Regions from separate parts of the Homo sapiens genome. Here region 2 is linked to region 1. Evidence: fine-mapped expression QTL. A gene starts in region 1. The other region holds a variant in brackets. All regions are shown on one strand. Distances are between the middles of the regions.

The links.
Region 2: its variant is fine-mapped to the expression of HS6ST3 in esophagus mucosa (GTEx, PIP 0.98).

What each region holds. Positions count from the first base shown.
Region 1 is chr13:96,085,947-96,095,044 of GRCh38, forward strand. HS6ST3 (heparan sulfate 6-O-sulfotransferase 3) reads left to right here and starts at 4,161. Exons shown (of 2, transcript NM_153456.4): 1 at 4,161-5,623. The coding sequence starts at 4,917. RefSeq lists enhancers at 3,484-3,984, 3,985-4,485.
Region 2 is chr13:96,892,858-96,901,955 of GRCh38, forward strand. No RefSeq gene overlaps it. Among named protein-coding and RNA genes, the nearest start is that of LINC00359, 87 kb to the right of the region's middle. The variant C/A (reference allele first, on the strand shown) is at 5,534.

The DNA of each region.
Region 1 (9,098 bases):
CTCTCTGATGGCTCTGTCTTGAAAATGCAGGCAATCTGATCTCTTCCAACCACCTCTGTAACCACCCTGTCTTGGTCTGGGCCACCATCAATCTCACATGATTACTGGAATAGCCACTTAACCAGTTTTCCTGCTTCTGTGTTTTTCCTTTTACAGTTGACAATAAAACACTCGAAAGGATCCCTTTAAAACTGTTCTGCAGTGGCTCCTCATTTCTCAGAGTCAAATTCTCACAATGGCCCACAAGGCCTGACATAACCTTCCTCCCATTGTCTCTCTGACTTCTTCCCTACTGTTTTACCCTGCCGGAATTTAAATTTTTGAGGGTAAAAATTATTGTCTTTATTGTTCATCAGTGCATACCAAATACGTAAAACTACATGGCATACAGCAGGGGCTCAATATATATCTTTGGATCAAATGAATGAATCTTGTTTACTTCTTTATAATTTATTTTTCCACTGTTAGACTATAAGCTACATGACGACAGGATCCTTATTCTTGTTTAATAGCATATCTAAAGCATTCAGAAGAGTACACAGTACATAGCAAATGCTTAACAAGTCCTTATCAAAGAAATAAAAGAATATCTATTGGGAAAAGATTAGTGCATCTACTTACACTATACTGAGTTAATGAATACATTATACATACAGATGGTTTCCATTCATTCTCATAGGCAGCTATCTATGGTGGATGTTACACAGTAAGGCAAAGAATGAACTGTTCAGATAAATAGAACTTTATGGAAAGTGGTATGTAGGGTCATGGTTGCCCCAAAGTTACAATCATATAGTGAACCGGAATATATCACAATCAGTATATATCCCAATTCTTTCTGCCATTGGTTCTAACTATGTGGGCTCTGTCTGCTTAACTTCCTGAGGAAAAAGAAAGCTGTCACTTTGCTGGTTATTTGCAAAACTGCTTACCCCAGGGGCTTTTGTGGGGAGAAAGATTGTTTACAAAACTGAAAAACAAAAGTCATTTCAGTATATAAGAGCACTTTCCATTCTTGTAGGAGAGAGTCATGCTGCCAATGACTTACATTATCTGTTTTATTTTCATCTCTATTGAGGGGCATTCAAATCTCTCTTCCTCTGTGCAAATGTAGGGGATCCAAAACTATCCTCTGTGATCATTTGGATTGTTAATCTCTCCAGGGTTTCTTCAACATTCTCAAGGCAGTTTCTGGCACCAAAGGGAAAATGGAGAAGTTGAGATGCAATTTTATTTCCCAATTGAACTTGATTAAATGGGGACTGTTCTAATCAAAAGTTTGAATCCTGGGGGAGTGCGATGTTGTTAACAGGTTTGAGAATATTGCAGAAGAACAGGGAGGAAGTATACTAAAGTCAAGGCAGAGAACGAATCAGGCAAGAAAATAATTGTAGTAAAGCTTATTAAGGCATAAAATTAGGTGAACAAATTGCTTCACAGATAGTGTTAAGCTCATTGCTAGACCGGCAAAGGAAGTGGAAGAAAGCTCTTTGAAAACATTATTTTTATTATTTTAATAATTTGTGTGGGAATCATAGTAGCTGCTATATGTTAGGGAGAAACAATTGCCAGCTGGTGTCATCGTGGAGTAACTATAGTAGACTGAATGCAAGTATGTTTTGCCTTTTTACCTGGAGAGCGTTCAATTTTAGAAAGTTTCTATTCATTTTTGCCTGAATGTGAGGTCTGCCCTTGTAGATAAGGAAGGCTGTTTATTGTGTGATTTAAGAGCTTTGATTAGGTTCACACCAAGTTCCACAACTGTAATAGGGAGACCACACCTGGGACAGACTGTATTTACACGACCAAAGTTACCTATTATTAAAAAATGAATTTTTGAGTAAATGCCTGAATTGTCTGTGTAATTGCCTTGATTCTATGCATTGTTTTCCTTGTGGTTACCTCAAGGAAATGGAGTCACTTCAGTAGCTATTTTACTGAAAATAAAACGAGATTTTCGGAGATAATGTTCTTTGAAAAGTGTTAAAGGTACACTTATTTATGGAAATACACGTTTTGTTAGCAATGTAGCTGCTACATGTTTGTCGTACATTTTATTTTTACAATTCTCCTAAGTGATTTAACAATTATATAATCATTTTATGATTGTTATTGTTATTTTTCCCTCTTTCTTGAAACTAATAGACTAAGTGACAAAATACTGCAGGATGTAGAATTGCTCAGCTTTGCCTATAAAGTCAGGAGGAGAGATAACATAATTTAATTATTCTATTGCAATTCTGTTGTCTCTTCTTGCCTCTTGACTCAAATGGTCTCAAGAGGGGAGAGAGGAAATTATGGGCTCTGTTGTTGATGTTTGTTGAACTTCTTCAGTGACTGTATTTTCGGGATGTTAGCAGTTTCTAATTTGGCTTTGCTTTCACCTAACTTTCCTTGCTTCAGTTTCCTCATCTCTGAAATGGGATATTATACTTCTCTTATCTCCTTAGAGTGTTGTTCTGAGAAGCAAATGAAATAATGGCTAGGAGAGTGCTTTCCACTATACAAACTACCACTAGCATTCTGGTTATCCATTTTGGTAGCTAATAAGGTGATGTTTATCCATGTGATATCAAGCAATTTTATAGGAAATGAGAAGCTTCTTCAATAAGGTGATATAAAAAGGTATAATGATGTTTTACTTAACTAAAGCAGAGGTATGTGTATATTAAGCAGACACATTCAGAAAATAATTGTTGGGCTTTTGTTTTATCACAGTTTCTTGCTGTGGAGTGGGGTGTGATGCCATTAATAGGATTTCAAACTTAAGTGAGAGAAAAAGAAATAGAATCAAATAAGCTTTAAAGAAGCTGATTCATCTCACCCAACACCTTTTCTACTGATATAGCCTCCTACATATTAGGAAAGGCAAGGGTTGGAGTTGTTTAAAGAGTTGAAAACGGGAAAGGAAATAGAGGAGGGAAGTTTTATTGAGAAGAATTCCACCTGTCTAAACAAGGAAAATAGTATCCTATGGGCAAACTTTAGCATCCCTGAAAGAGCCCTGGATCTTCACTGATGGCTGCAGAGGGGACACCCTGATAAATAGATGACATCGACAGAGTGTCTCAGGAAGAAACAAGTGCATGGATTCATAAAAAGGCCAGATGGGACGGTGGGCTGCTATGAAATATTATAGCACACCTGTGGAATACGGTAGTGTAGCTGGGAGGGACACATTGGTCTGGGCCAGGGAATCACACTGCATTGTCCTCACACATTGCCTTTAACACATTGCCACTCTCCACTCGGAAAATAGGTCGAGCAGGTCTAGGGACTGTGGTAGGGCAGTTACAACAATTTGATCGTATATCTTTTCACTATCTGAAAAACAGAAGTTGTTATTGAGCAAAGATTTAGTTCTGGGGTAATACTAAATGCAACATCTAGATGTTTGAAAAATAAAGTTTCCAAAAAACATCTGCATACAAATTAGGGCTTATGAAATATAGGCAAGCTTAAGTGTTATCTTCCACCATTGTTGGGAAGGAATAAATCTTGAACATTTAGGAGTTCAACGTCTATTAGTAGAATGATTTTTTTAGGAGGTGATCCCTAAACTCCTTTTTATGTTCTAAGTACTGCATGGTTGAGGGCTGGACTGTCTAGTGCTGAAAGAAAGTGTGTATTGAACATAGAGCCTGATACACAGTTAGGCGCTTAATGGTTAATTGATGCTGGTTGAATACAGTTGTATAGTTGGACGCACCAAGTTTGTTATTAAGGGAGGACCACCATAAAACTCGAACACCAGTTAGAATGTCTTGGGTAGAAATTCACAGCAGTCTGGAGCCACGTTCCCCTGCTGAGAAGGGAACTGCCAACCCGTGTAAAGTCTGGTCTAGTGAGTGTTCCCGGGAGTGTGCAGGTGTTATTCCTGAAAATAAGGCCGGCCACTACCAGACAGAGAAGCTGCCCATTTTAAGGTGTCAGATCAACGCCAGCGACGCTTACCTCGGGGCCTCCTCTCGCCCCACCTTTGCCTTTCTGCCAAATCTCTCCTTGCTCCCGGCCGAAGGGATTCCCACCCCCAGCTGCCTCCTCCGAGCCCCGCGGAGCAGCGGACTCCTCCCCTGGAAACTCCTCCGGGGCTGGGGGAGGCTTTGGCGCATGCTCCGTACCTAGGGCAGGTTTTTGCTGCGGGTAGCAGGGCTCCTGTCACACCGGCTGGCGGGTTGTGGCGGTGCCAGCCTGTGTGTGCGAGTGTGTCTGCGTGCCTGCGCCTGGGCGGACAGCCCGGAGCGGCAGTGCGACTCGCCGGGAGAGGCGTCTCCGCAGAGGCGCCTCGCCCGCTGCCGCTGCGCTGCGGGGGCCGCTCTGCAAACTTGCGGCGAGCGCCGTCAGCCCTCGCGGCTCCACAGCCCCGCGACCTGCCGGCAAAGGCGCCGGGCGCGCGTGCCGGGCGCGGTGCCCGCGGCCGGCCGGGGCGGCGGGAGCGGGCCGCGCCTTCGCCCTTGGCCGGCGCCCTGGCGAGCCTCATGCAGCCCCGGCGCTCGCGGCCGCAGCTACCCGGCTGCCCGGCTGCGCGCGGCAGGTCCAGGACCCGAACCCCGCTCCCCAGCGCCTGAGCGCCTGCAAGCCGCCGGCGGGATGCCGCGCGTCGCCTGAGAGAGCCGCGCCGGGGCGGGAGCAGGGAGCGGGCCGGCCCGGGCGCACCCGGGAGCGCAGGGCGCCCCACGCCGCAGCCGCAGCCGAGCGCGCCGGCGCCCGCCTCCCCCGCCCGGCTCGCAGGCCCCGGCTCCTCAAGCCCCGAGGGCCGCGGGGCCGCCAGCCAGCCACACGCCTCGGCGTCAGGGGCATGGAGGAACGGCGGGCTCCGAGCCGCGCCCCGGAGTCCGCGAAACTTCCGAGCGGGCGCCCGTCCGCCCTGCCGCCGCCGCCGCCGCCGCTTCGCCTGCCGGCCTGAGAGCGGGACCATGGATGAAAGGTTCAACAAGTGGCTGCTGACGCCGGTGCTCACTCTCCTCTTCGTGGTCATCATGTACCAGTACGTGTCCCCCTCCTGCACCAGCTCCTGCACCAACTTCGGGGAGCAGCCCCGCGCGGGGGAGGCCGGCCCGCCCGCCGTCCCGGGTCCCGCCCGCCGGGCTCAGGCGCCGCCGGAGGAGTGGGAGCGGCGGCCCCAGTTGCCCCCGCCGCCCCGGGGGCCCCCCGAGGGACCTCGGGGGGCCGCGGCGCCGGAGGAGGAGGACGAGGAGCCCGGAGACCCCCGGGAGGGGGAGGAAGAGGAGGAGGAAGACGAGCCGGACCCCGAGGCCCCGGAAAACGGCTCCCTGCCCCGATTCGTGCCGCGCTTCAACTTCAGCCTGAAGGACCTGACCCGCTTCGTGGATTTCAACATCAAAGGGCGCGACGTGATCGTGTTCCTCCACATCCAGAAGACGGGGGGCACCACTTTCGGCCGGCACCTGGTGAAGAACATCCGGCTGGAGCAGCCTTGTAGCTGCAAAGCGGGTCAGAAGAAGTGCACCTGCCACCGGCCTGGCAAGAAGGAGACGTGGCTCTTCTCCCGCTTCTCCACCGGCTGGAGCTGCGGGCTGCACGCCGACTGGACGGAGCTCACCAACTGCGTGCCGGCCATCATGGAGAAGAAGGACTGTCCCCGCAACCACAGCCACACCAGGTACTGTCGCCCGCTGGGTCTCTGTTCTTCCCCCCCACCCCCCATCCCTCTTCCTCAGTCCTGACCCAGAGCGACCCCGCGCTCCCTGCCCCTGCCGATGGTTTCCTGGCGTCTTCAGCGGTTGGCGCCGTGGCTTTGGGGAGGGATGAGAAACCTCCGGATAGTGCCTAGGTCCTGAACTCGTTCTTCCCCCAGCCCCCACCGCTTCCCGCCACCCCTCTGCCTTCACCCTCTAAGATGTGCGGAGCCACCGTGTGGATCCTGCCTGTTGCCTAGCACGGCCTGGCCTCCCTCCCAGTGGACGCTGGAAAAACGCCCTGAAATGGGGAGCGGATCGCGGTCTGGGTTAGACCAGCCTTGTAGAATTGTGAACTTAAGTTTTGGGAGTGTAAACCCAAACCCAGGAAAAGGAAGGGGGAGTAGAGAGGCAAGGCACGAGTTTTCCAGGCGTGGTGAAGCTGGAGACGAGTATAATCCCTCCCTAAGTGGCTTTTGGATGGCAGCTCAGGAAACAGTCAATCCTCTTGATGCCACTTTGAAGACACACGTGCAAATTCCTGTTCTACCGCGATAGATAACTCTAATTCTGGAGATGGTCTTTGTTGCCCAGCAGTGCCAGGATTTGGACTCACCTGTCCTCAGAAAGATTTCCATGCTCTTCCTAGGCCATTACATCAACTTATTCCAAAAGTATGTTAAATGCCTACAGGGTGCCTGACAGTGTGCTAGGTGTTAAGTGAGTATAAAGATAACATAACATCCCTTGTTTTCAGGATGGAATGACATTCTTGATCCCCTGCCTCCCAGCCTTAAAAAACAGTAATACAGTGGAGAATTAAGAAAGTTAAAAATCTTAATAGCCAATGAAACTGCTTACATTATTAACATGCTTTGAGAGAGACATGGGCTTAATAATTTGGTTGAAGGTCCTTTCTGCCCATTGCAATTTGAAGATTAATCTGACATGCTTGCTAAAGGACGAAAATATTAAAAGCTTGGAACACTAGTTCATTGAAGTTTTTATCTTAAAGGTTTCAAACAATTTGGTATGAGGAAATAGGAATTTAAAAGCTCAAGCTGATTATGTTGATATCCCAGATAGCTTTTGCATTTGACGTTATAGAAAAGCTTCATTTACTGGAAGCTACCCAGATTCTGGAATTCACCACCACTGAAGCATCTAATTCTACTTCATTTCTCCAAGAATGAGCAAAATTTCATTATGAGATTTTTTACTCTGGCAATTCTTCAGATACTTTCCTTCCTCCCTGCTCCTTTTCCTGTTTCCTGCACATTAGTTAGAATAAGAAACTGGATTTGGAATGAGGGAATTAGGCTCTTCTCTTAGTATATTTTACGGATCCTTTGCTTTTAAATATTTTTAATAGTGTATTACTTTGGATCTTGCCACTCTCTTTTAGCTTAAAACAGTTTTTCAATTAAGTATTACTTCCAAACCTCCTAACACATAACACTATTACTTCAGTGAGACACAATTTCTGCTACATTTCATCCAACCTTGTACTCCCTGTTTAGATTAATTCCTGATTGACCTCAAAGGGTTTGCTAGACTGCTTCCCAGCTTCCATTTCACTAAAACTGGAGTCTTATTGATTATCACATAGAAATGTCTGATTACTCTTCAGTAGGGGCTGGCATTATTTTTGTCCCAGGTTCATAAAAGTCTTAGTAAATAGATGAAGATTTTAAAGGACTTAGAGGAGGATGTGGAATCTAAAAATAATTAGATTTTTGCTTAGTGATGAATAATGTTACTACAGACCCTGAATAGGTGACAAGCAGTAAGGTCTCACTTCTATAGGAAATACTTAATATCTCTATTCTGTTGACACAGGAAAACTCCACTGTGACTGTTTAAACATATGATTTCTAGTGTATGATCAAGTTATTTTCTTTGTTTAGTAATGGAGCATAAACATTCACTTCTCCCTGAATCACAGGTTAGCAGGCAATTAGTCACCCTGTTCTGGTTTCCTTTCTTTCTAAAAAAAAAAATTTTTTTTTGGTAGTATTTTGTTTTTACCTCATTTTATAATCCTTTCTTTTCCTTCCCACCCTCTCTCTCTCCCCAGTAATTCTCAATTACTTCCTTGCTCTAGATACTGTAGGAGGGAATAGTTGTGGCATATGTGAAGTGCCCTGCATCAAAAGCTATAGGGAAAAAGTTGAAAGGATGTTAACAGTAGCATCTCTCTAGCAGAGAAGATTGAATTAGTTGTCTGTCATTGTAATGTCTGTGTACAGCATTCTACAGTCAACTAGATTAGCCTGGATAATGGAGGGTACCTTTTCACAATGCAAAATGGCAGATAATCTATTGGTACATAATGGGAACAAGGTTCTACTTCAAATAGGGCTGACTCTAAGCAAAATTGATAAGTAGATCTTGTTGATTTTGGTTCCCTAGTCTTTCTGCTTTTGGTCCCCCCAAAGCGCCTCCTCCCAATTTCACTCAGAGATCAATGCCCTTATGGATCACATAATGGATAAGAGTAAGGATTCTGGAGTCAGATAAATATGGCTCTTGTACTTACTAGCCATGTACCCAGGAGTAAGTTACTTTTTCTGAGTCTCAGTTTCTTCACTTTTAAAGTGTAGATAATAATTAGTATGGCCATTATAGGGGTGTTGTGAGAACTAAATGAATCAATGCATGCAAAATGCTTAGCATAGTATATATGCGTAGTATAATATACTGGCATATCGTGCTTACTATGTAGATATATAGTAATACTGCAATATCAGTTGTTAATTGCAACGATAGGTTCCCCACTCAAGGCCTTCTTCCTAAAAAACCATGAGGTCCGTTTCTTAGAGAAGATCTGTATAAATGGGTCACCTTACAGAGATACCATTTTATGATTACTTGTATTAAGCATCCTAGGTTGCAAACTTAAACAATAAGTTGAAAATTATGGACATTTGGACATCAGTCTTTGCAGGGGGCAAGGTGGGGAACAAAGTTGGGGGCACACAATATAATTGGATATACATTCCGTTGGTAACACAAAAACTATCTGGAATGGTGAGCGAGGAGGTGAGAACATCTAGGACTGAAGGCAGAAGCAGGAAGCCAACTCTGAAAAGAAATACATGGCAAACTTCAAGGGGCCATCATATGGATTATGTGGGTCATGAAGGGGCAGGACCCCGGGCTGGTGGTTTGAATCCAGCACAGAGGTAACTTCTGACCACAGAAACTGGTTAGAATAGGATGGTGGCACATCGGAATTACCTCTTGTATCATATCACTGATGATTTTTTCCCATTATTTTTGTGTTGCTTTTCCCCCTCAGTTATTTTTTTGGCAGGCCATTCTTTCTCACTCTCTTTATGCTTCCTTCTTTATTACTGTACGCCCCTTAATCTGCATGTCCAGAGCCTTAAAAGACTCCTTTTTAGCATTCTTGAGTATATATAGAATCATAGCATTTTATGGCTAAAAAGGATTGAA
Region 2 (9,098 bases), 810 kb after region 1:
ACAGAGAGTGCTAATGGTGACAGAGGATTGTAATTTAAAATAAAGTGGACAGGGAAGATGCCGCAGAAAAGTAATCATTACAGTAAAGACGTGGAGGAGGCAAATTAGCAAGGCATGGAGATGTTTGGGAAAAATGCTTCCGTTTGGGGGAACAGGAATTCCAGAAGCCCTGAGGCAGGAGCATGCCAGGAGTGCTTAAAGAAATCAAAGAAGCCAGTGTGGCTAGAATTGAGTGACTGAGGAAGGAGGGAGGGGAAGTGAGGTCAGAGTGTTCATGGCTGGGGATGGGGAGGCTGATCTTGTAAGATGTTCAAGCCCATTATAAGCATTTTGGTTTTTATTTTGAATTATACAGCGGAGTAAAATGCTTTCACTTTTGTTGGGCAGGATCTCCTTAGCTATTATGTTAAGAACAGAAAGTCAAAGTGCAAGGGCAGATGTCAGGAGACCTTAGAATAATCTAGGCAAGAAATTCTGGTGATTGGAGACAAAAGGGGTAGCTGAAGAGGTAGTGAAAACTAGCTAGATTTTGGATATATTCTGATGGTTGACAGGATTTGCTATTATTAAGTTTTAGACTTAAGAAATGCCTCCTCCTCTGTTCAATGAAGGTTCAATATTACCTTGTAATACTACAAATAGAAGAACTAGAAGTTCATACTCTTTATGCTATTTTATTATGCTAGGCTGAACCCTGTGGGAGAGTCTAGAGGCTTCCTTCAGAGACAGTGACAGAAGCAGCCTTTAATGTGCTTCTCCTAGCAGTATAAATCTGCCATTGACTTCATTTGTATTACACACAGATCCCAATAAGTCTGTTTTGTAGTGCTTTTGACTACCTGAAACAGTAGGAAGACTATTTTTTAATCAATGTGCAAATGAAGAGGAGTTTATATTTTCTTCCAAATCTGACCTTGAATATTCTTTACAAACACCTAGGTGGTATTTTAAAACTGTCAACAAAATGAGTTCTTAAAAGTTATCCATGTACTTAAGCATTTGGGGGTCTTTCTGATTCTTTTTTTTAGCTTATCTGTATTTGATTACATTTGTTTGGGGTTTCAAAATGTACCACCTCCAGTTTTGCTATTTAAGTCAAATATGGCTTGTTTTAATAATATCTCTGAAGGCTTGATCATTTATTCATGTATTTATTCATTTCATTTATTCATTCATTAAATAGACATTTATGGAGGGATGCGGTGGCTCACACCTATAATCCCAGCACTTTGGGAGGCTAAATTGGACTATAGCCTGCACCCAGGAGTTTAAGACCAGCCTGGGCAACAAAGTGAGACCCTGTCTCTACAAAAAATTTAAAAATTTAAAAAATTAGCTGCATGTGGTGGTACATGCCTGTAGACCCAGCAACTTGGGAGGCTAAGGTGAGGGGATTGCTTGAGCCCAGGAGTTCAAGGCTGCAGTGAGCTATGGTGCCTTTGCACTCCAGCCTGGGTGACACAGTGTCTCTAGAAACAAAACAAAACAGTCATGTATTGAACAACTACTACATATCAGCCTCTGTGCTGTGCAGTGAGAGATAAGCTATTTCTTAACTACACATTGCAAATTCCTAGTCCTCAAGGAATATGTTAATACATATAGAATATATATATATAATAGATGATGTGATAAAAGTTAGGAAAGCTAGTAGTAACCTGCTGGCATGGGAAAATTTAGGAGTACTTTTCATGCCAGTTTTGGGGATATGAGTTTTCCAATTGGAGGGTTGGTAGTACAGGATAAAAGAGTGAAGAATGGACATTCCTGTGACAGCAATGTGCATAAAGGCTGTGGGGTGAGGGAAATCATGAGGCACTGGGGACCGGCAAGAGCTTCAGAATGGTTGGAGCTCTCCATTAGGCTAAGGAGCAGGGCTACCAAGGAGTCATGCATAGGACAGATTATGAGAAAGGTTGCTCTGACTGCAGTGTGGACAATGCATCATAGATGGCAAGATCAGAGAAAGGGAGACATGTTAGGAGGCTGATGCAGTTGCCTGGGAAAAGGATGCTTATAGCCTGAAATAAGGACTGCCAGGAAGAGAATTGGAGAATTTCAAAAGATAAGAGAGAGTCCAAAGAATCGGTGTAATTGGATGTGGTTTGTGGGAAAGAAAAACGTAAATAAAAATCCATGTTTTCTGGCTGAGACACAAGGTAAAATAACAGTGCCATTGAGATATTGGGCATAGATGGAGAAATAGATTTTGATGACCTGTGATGAATTCAGTTTGGAACAGTTGAGTTTAAGCTGTCTGTGGATATCTATCTGAAGATGTCCACTGGTTTTATTCACATAGGTCTGGACCTCAGGAGAGAAATCCTAGCTTGAAATATAATTGAGGGTAAGAGCATACAGATAGTCATTAGAGCTTTGAGGTTGGAAGACATCACAGAAGAGGAGAGTCTACAGGATTGAAGATGGGCCTCTGACATTTTAAAGGATTCACAAAAAGGAACCAGCAAAGAAGACTGTGATGTATCAGCCAGCGAGGTAAAAAGAAAATCATGGTATGAGAATGGAACTGCCCAAGGGGTTCTTGCTGCCTGCTGCACAAACAAAGACCACAGCATTGCAGTAAAGAAAGTTTAATTGACATGAGGCCAGCCATGTCACAGGGGAGACAGTTAATACTCAAAGCAATCCCCCTGAAGTCCTGTCGTTTTCAAAGGCAATTTGGGGAAGGGAGTGGGAGTGGTCACATAATGGGTGCTTGCTGATGACTGGTTGTGTTGGAGGTGAAGTCATAGGGAGTCAAAGCTGTTCATCTGAGCTGAATTGCTCCTGGGTGTGGCCACAAGGGAAAGGTTGGGGAGTCCACATGGAGCCATCCCCACATGGAGCCAGGTGGAGCCAGGGATGTCAGACATGCAAAAAAAAATTCCTGAAAACGTACCTCAAAAGGCCAGTCTGCAGTAGTGGTGTTATCTGCAGGAATATCTGGTGATAAGTGCACATACCTTAGCAGAATCAGGGTCCTCTCTTCCTTGTAGCCTGGTGGACTTCATTAGCTTTGCAAAGATGGTTGATGGTTGAGTTTTAGAGAAGGGCTATTATCATTTAAACCATAATCTAAATGTCTTCCAAAGTTAGCTTGGCCCAAAAGCCCAAGAATAATTAAGGGAAGGGCAAGATGGGGGTGGGTTAGATCAGATCTCTTTTACTGCCGTAATTTTCTTATTGTTAAATTTTTTGCAAAGTCTGTTTCAAGGGCAATATGGAAGTGTGGAATCTGAAACAGGTAAGGACTTCCAGAAGTTGGGATAAGTCACCAGTGTTAAATCATGATGAAGACTTGGGTAAGAGGAAGCCTGTAGAGCCATTGCATCTAGCAAGAGCAAAGTCATCCCCTGTTCTTAACAATAGTAATGTGAATGAAGTAAGGAGCGAGGAGGCCATATTTTAGTGAACTGAGTGAATAGGCTATAAGCAAGTGGAGAGAGCTGATGTATACTGCAAAGGAAAAGAGAGCACAGGGCCAAAGCTCACATGGGATGTGAGGCTCATGAAAGCCTCTGTTGTTGCAGTTGTTTCTTGAGGTGGGAGAAAGATGAACTTGGTTAAATGCTGATTAGAATGAGTTGTATGAAAGGAACAACTGTAGTTGTTGAGAAGCAAGGAGGCGCCTGATTAAACAGTGTTTCTGAGGTAGCAGCAATGGTCAGACTCCAGAACATCTGTGGAGGGAGTAGCCACACCTAAAAGGAAATGTACTTTTGAAAAGATCAGTCATGGGTTAAAGGTGGATACTTATTATGGATTGAACTGTGTCTCCCCCAAATTCATGTATTGAAATCCTAACGCCTACTGCCTCAGAGTGTGACCTTATTTGGAAATAAGGCCATTGCAGATGTAATTGTTAAGATGAGGTTATACTGAAGTAAGGTAAGTCCCTAATCCAATATGTTTGATATCCCTGTAAAAAGAAGAGGACAGGCATGGTGGCTCATGCTTGTAACCCCAGCATTTTGGGAGGCCAAGGGGGGCAGATCTCTTGAGGCCAGGAGTTCAAGACCAGCCTAGCCAACACGGCGAAGCCCCATCTCTACTAAAAATACAAGAATTAGCTGGGCATGGTGGTACATGCCTATAGTCCCAGCTACTCGGGAGGCTGAGGCAGGAGAATCACTTGAGCCCAGGAGGCAGAGGCTACAGTGAGCCGAGATCATGGCACTGTACTCCAGCCTAGGTGACAGGGTGAGACTCTGTCTCAAAATATAAGATAAGACAATATAAAGGGGGAGGCTGGTATGGTGGCTCATGCTTGTAATCCCAGTACTTTTGAACCAGGAGTTTGAGACCAGCCTGAGCAACATGGCAAAACCCCATCTCTACAACATACTATATATATATATACTCTATATATATACTCTCTATATATGCTATATATATACTATATATTAGTATACATATATACACCCTGTATGTATACATATATATAGTATACTATATATATGTGTGTATATATATGTGTGTGTGTGTGTGTGTATATATATATATGTATGTATGTATCTCCAGGTGTGGTGGTGCATGCCTGTAGTCCCAGCTACACAGAAAGCTGAGATGGGAGAATCTCTTGAGTCCTGGGGAGGTCAAGGATGCAGTGAGCCATGATTGCACCACTGTACTCCAGCCTGAACAAAGAGCAAGGCCTTGTCTCAAAAAAAATTTTTTTTTAATAGTAGTGGGTGGGAATTTGGACACTAACATGCACACATAGAGAGAAAGCCATGTGGTGAAGGCAGAGATCAGGAGATGTTACAGAAGGTGAAAAAAAAAAAAAAGCCAAAGATTGTCAGCAAACTACCTAGGAGAGACATGGGACAGATTTTCCAAGACCACCTTCAGAAGGAATCAACCTTGATTTGACACTTCTAGCCTCCAGCACTGTGAGAGAGTAAGTTACTGTTGTTTAAGCCACTCAGTTCGCACTTTGTTACGGCAGGCCTAGTAAACTAACTTGGTGCCAGTGAAATTAAGTTTGCCTGTTGAACGACAGAAAGTCAAGGGAGTACTGACCTGCTGCTTTTACTTTTATTAAGAACTTGGACCCAGTGTTATCTCTGGGGAGTCTTTGAGGAAGGTGGCTTGGGACACTTGGAGATAAATGGAGAAGACTTGAAATAACCATTCTGAACAATGGAAGATAGCAGTCTAAAAGGAGCTATAAGAATGCTGGGCAGTACTGAGGCTCCAGTTGAGTTTGGACCTCAGGGATTTACTCTGTGTGTGTGTGTGTGTGTGTGTGTGTGTGTGTGTGTGTGTGTGTGTGTGTTGGGGGGGTTTTGTTTTTTAAAGAGTTCTTCCAGTGGCACTCCATAGTCCAGTGTGATTATTTTGGGAATATATTTTCCACCACTGAAGTCAAAGACAACTATCTTTTTCTGCCTGCCTGACTTTCCCTAGACCCTAGTCCTTAGCAAAGGTACAAAGTAATAATACTATTTTATTCATAGGGAAGGCCATTACAATTATTCAGCAGGCTCTTTGCCAATGTGCCTCTCACATTCTTCCACCACCAAGAACTAAT[C/A]CCTGGGGTTTAGCTTATAAAATCCATGACTAAAAAATATTTTTGTCTTTCATCATCAGCTTTCTCACAGATTTGGTGGCTCTGAGCTGTACTCTGGAGCTGAAATGTCTCCTTAAGGCATTTTTCTTCATCCTTAAGTTCAAGGATGCCTTAAGAGGCTTATTTTCTCTTATCATGAATGTGAATCAAGCCACAGCAGGGTCTGTAACTAACCAGTGCTAAGGAAATACAATAACATGGTTGATGTTGGAAAATTTTCCATTGCAAACCTCACAAGAATACATTTTTTTTTCACACATAGATCCATTTCTTAAGGTAAAATATGGCAATGGATGTGAATCACGTGAAACTAATGTGAAATACAACAGAAAAATAGGACTTTGATGTTTATGAAATTTGTATTATTCCCACTGCTAAGTAAGCCAGTTTCATTTTTAGATCCCATCCTCTGAGCAAGCAGCAAAGTTCAAAGCCTGCCAAAAAAGTGATGAATTTTTCAGATGTATTGCAGGAGAATTGTAGCTGCTAGGTAACGTTTATTAGGGAAATGGAGGAAAAGGCTGGAGCCTCGGGCACCTTCAGAAAGAAAACAACCAGGAGTAATGGTCAGAGCAAGACAAAAGCGACAGTGTCTGATGGTTTGTGCTGGCCTCAGAGGATCATGTGAATGCTGTTGACAACATTCCCGTGAGTACCCCTCCCCCCACCCCACACTGAAGAAGTCAACAACCAAAGCCCTGACAGCAGGGTCTGGCTGCCCAAGGCTCCAAGGGCTCTTTAATGGGGGAAGCTATCCAATTAGAAGGTACTTAGGGATAGATCCACATTCGAACTAACTCCAACCCCAGTGGAAGTAGGTCCAACCCTGCAGCAGGTTTACTTGCGACCTCTGTGTGTAAAATGTTTTCTTTTAGCGGGAGAGGGGAGATGGCATTCTGGATTCTCATTCTTTATCCATGACCCTGCGTGCTCATACATATACCTCAAACTCTAAGCATCCATCTTATTCACACCACTCTCTCCAAACTCTAATTTGATCATAATAATAAGGCTGCAATGTCATTTAGAGACAATTTAATCCATCCCCTCCCGTTCCACCCTCTCCCTCCATACACATAATTATCACCACTACTACCATCATTGTTTTATAGAAAACAAGATAAAAACTGAAGCCCAGGATTTAAATAACTTGACCACATGGCTTATTGCTGACAAAACTAATATTAAACCTATATATTTTGATTCTGTATTCATAGATCTTTCTATAGCACCATGCAAAATGATTCAGAGACTGGAGATCAGTGATCAGCAAGAAGGATCCACTGGAACAGGCTCAGTAAACTCTGATGTTACAGAAACAGCTCTGATCTCTATGTCACTTGTATAATGGTCTCTTCCAATCTAGGCTAAACCTTTCTATAAGCAGATATTTGAGAAGATGGATTTCATTTTATCCATACTGCATAATGTATTTGAAAATTCTTTCCTATATTGAATTTTATTTAATCCTTACTACAAACCTGTGAGAAAGAGAAGTTTGGTCTGATTTGGTGTTATTAGCTCCAATTTAGAGATGAGGAAAATGAAGTGCAGAGAAAAGTAGTAGGCCCAAGTTCACAAGGTTTATAATTATTAGGACTGAGATTGGATCCCATCATTTACTGGCTTGTAGCCCAACATTTTCCCACTACTCAACAGATATTCATTAAATTCTTACTATATATCAGGGCCAACACCAGGGGCTGAGGCATTAGGGATCTAGCTAGAATATGTCTGATTTCAAAGATTTAGGAAACCTGGCAGGAAATCAGATAAGTAAGCAAATGAATCATATTCAGGAAAAAGAGAATTATTTACTTGTGTCCACCAAATAAGTCATGTAGTTACTCTGAGCCTTTGTTTCCTCATCTGCAATAATAATTTCTTTGTAGGGTTATTTAGAATATATGCAACATAGAATATATGCAAATTATGATAAAATAATAGCCAAATTTTGAATATGTAAACATTTCATTTTCATACCTACAGTATTATAAAGAAGCTCTGAAGCTCTGAGAGCAGGAACAAGATGCTTACATTTGAGAGCAGTGAGTGAGAGAGTTCCAGGCAAAATTGCTCTGACAAAACAGAAATTTTGCTTCACTGAACTTACAAGAACCAACTTCCCACTGATTTATACAATACCCTGTTAGCCCCTGTAATCTTTAGGGGTAGGGACCAAAGCCTGTAGGGTGCCTCCATACAGTATAACAGACCTTGGAGAGATCTATTCTGACTTGAAATTTGCTCACATGCTGAATGAATAAGAATACATTGGTTACTTTCTCTGATTCTGAGCCCCGGAGGGATAGAAAAGCATAATTATCCCAATAAATAACATAGCATTATAAGTCAATAATGGGATGGCACCTTCCTGGCAGCTGGATTGTAATCATGTGAATTCAGACCTTGAATTTGCCAAGGTGCTTGTTACTGCAGGGTTACCATGGGCTTATTAAATTCTTTTGGTCTGGAACATGGCTGTCTCTGCAGCTGAGTTCATGAGGTAAACAGTTGATGTAATTGATAGTGTGAATACCACTTCATTTCCTGCTGCTCTAAGAGAATTTGCTTTGAGGTAGAAGAAAATGACCCATTCTGCTACTGTGAGTTCTGGCTAGCTTTCCTCAAGGAGCATACTTTAGGCTGAGTGTTTGCAAATTGTCTTCTTTCCTTTAAGAGAGAGGACCATGGGAGGGGCCCTATCAGTCACTCTGTTATGGAGGGGTGGGGCTTCCAAGGTCACATCTCACTTGGCTATCGACAGTTTGTCAGAGAGCTTCCCAGACCTCCCTGGAAAGCCGTGGCAATGCCAGAATAGATCAGTAGGTCGATTAGGAAGAAAAAAACATGATAAGCATTTTTACTGCTGTCAGCCCAAGACAGATTTCTGAATGTGGACAAAGGGTCGTCCTGTTTCATGGGGCTTAAAACACATTCAATTAAGGAGAAATTGAATTTCTTTTTGGGAAAAAGAAAGGAATATAAAATTCTACTGGATGGGAAGAAATACTTTAACTTGTAAATTAATTTATACATTCAAAGCAATTTCAATAAAAACCTCAGAACGGCTTGTTTAGCTTGACAAAATTATTCCACATCATGTCCAAAAATGTATAATAAAATATGCAAATTTTGAATAATTTAAATAAGACATGACTTTCACTTGCAGAAAATAAAATATACTACCAAACAACAGTTGTTAAACAATGTGTTTCTGGGACTAGAATAGAGAAACGTATCACCAGAAATGAATGATTCCAAATGAAAAGAGACCCAAATTCATAGGGGAATGCAGTGCAAATAACATTATTTGACATCAGAAATTACTATTTTGTTTTGCCTTCTTGGATATCAGGATTGGGGGGAACAGCAGCATTACTGGGATAATCATATCAATGGGTAACTAATATTTATCATAAACCATTTAACAGCACAGAATGCCTGAAGGAGACTTAGGAATTTATGTTTTTTCTTTTTAGTGGAGTGAATGTGGGCATTTTTAAGAATGATACTAAAAGCAAGT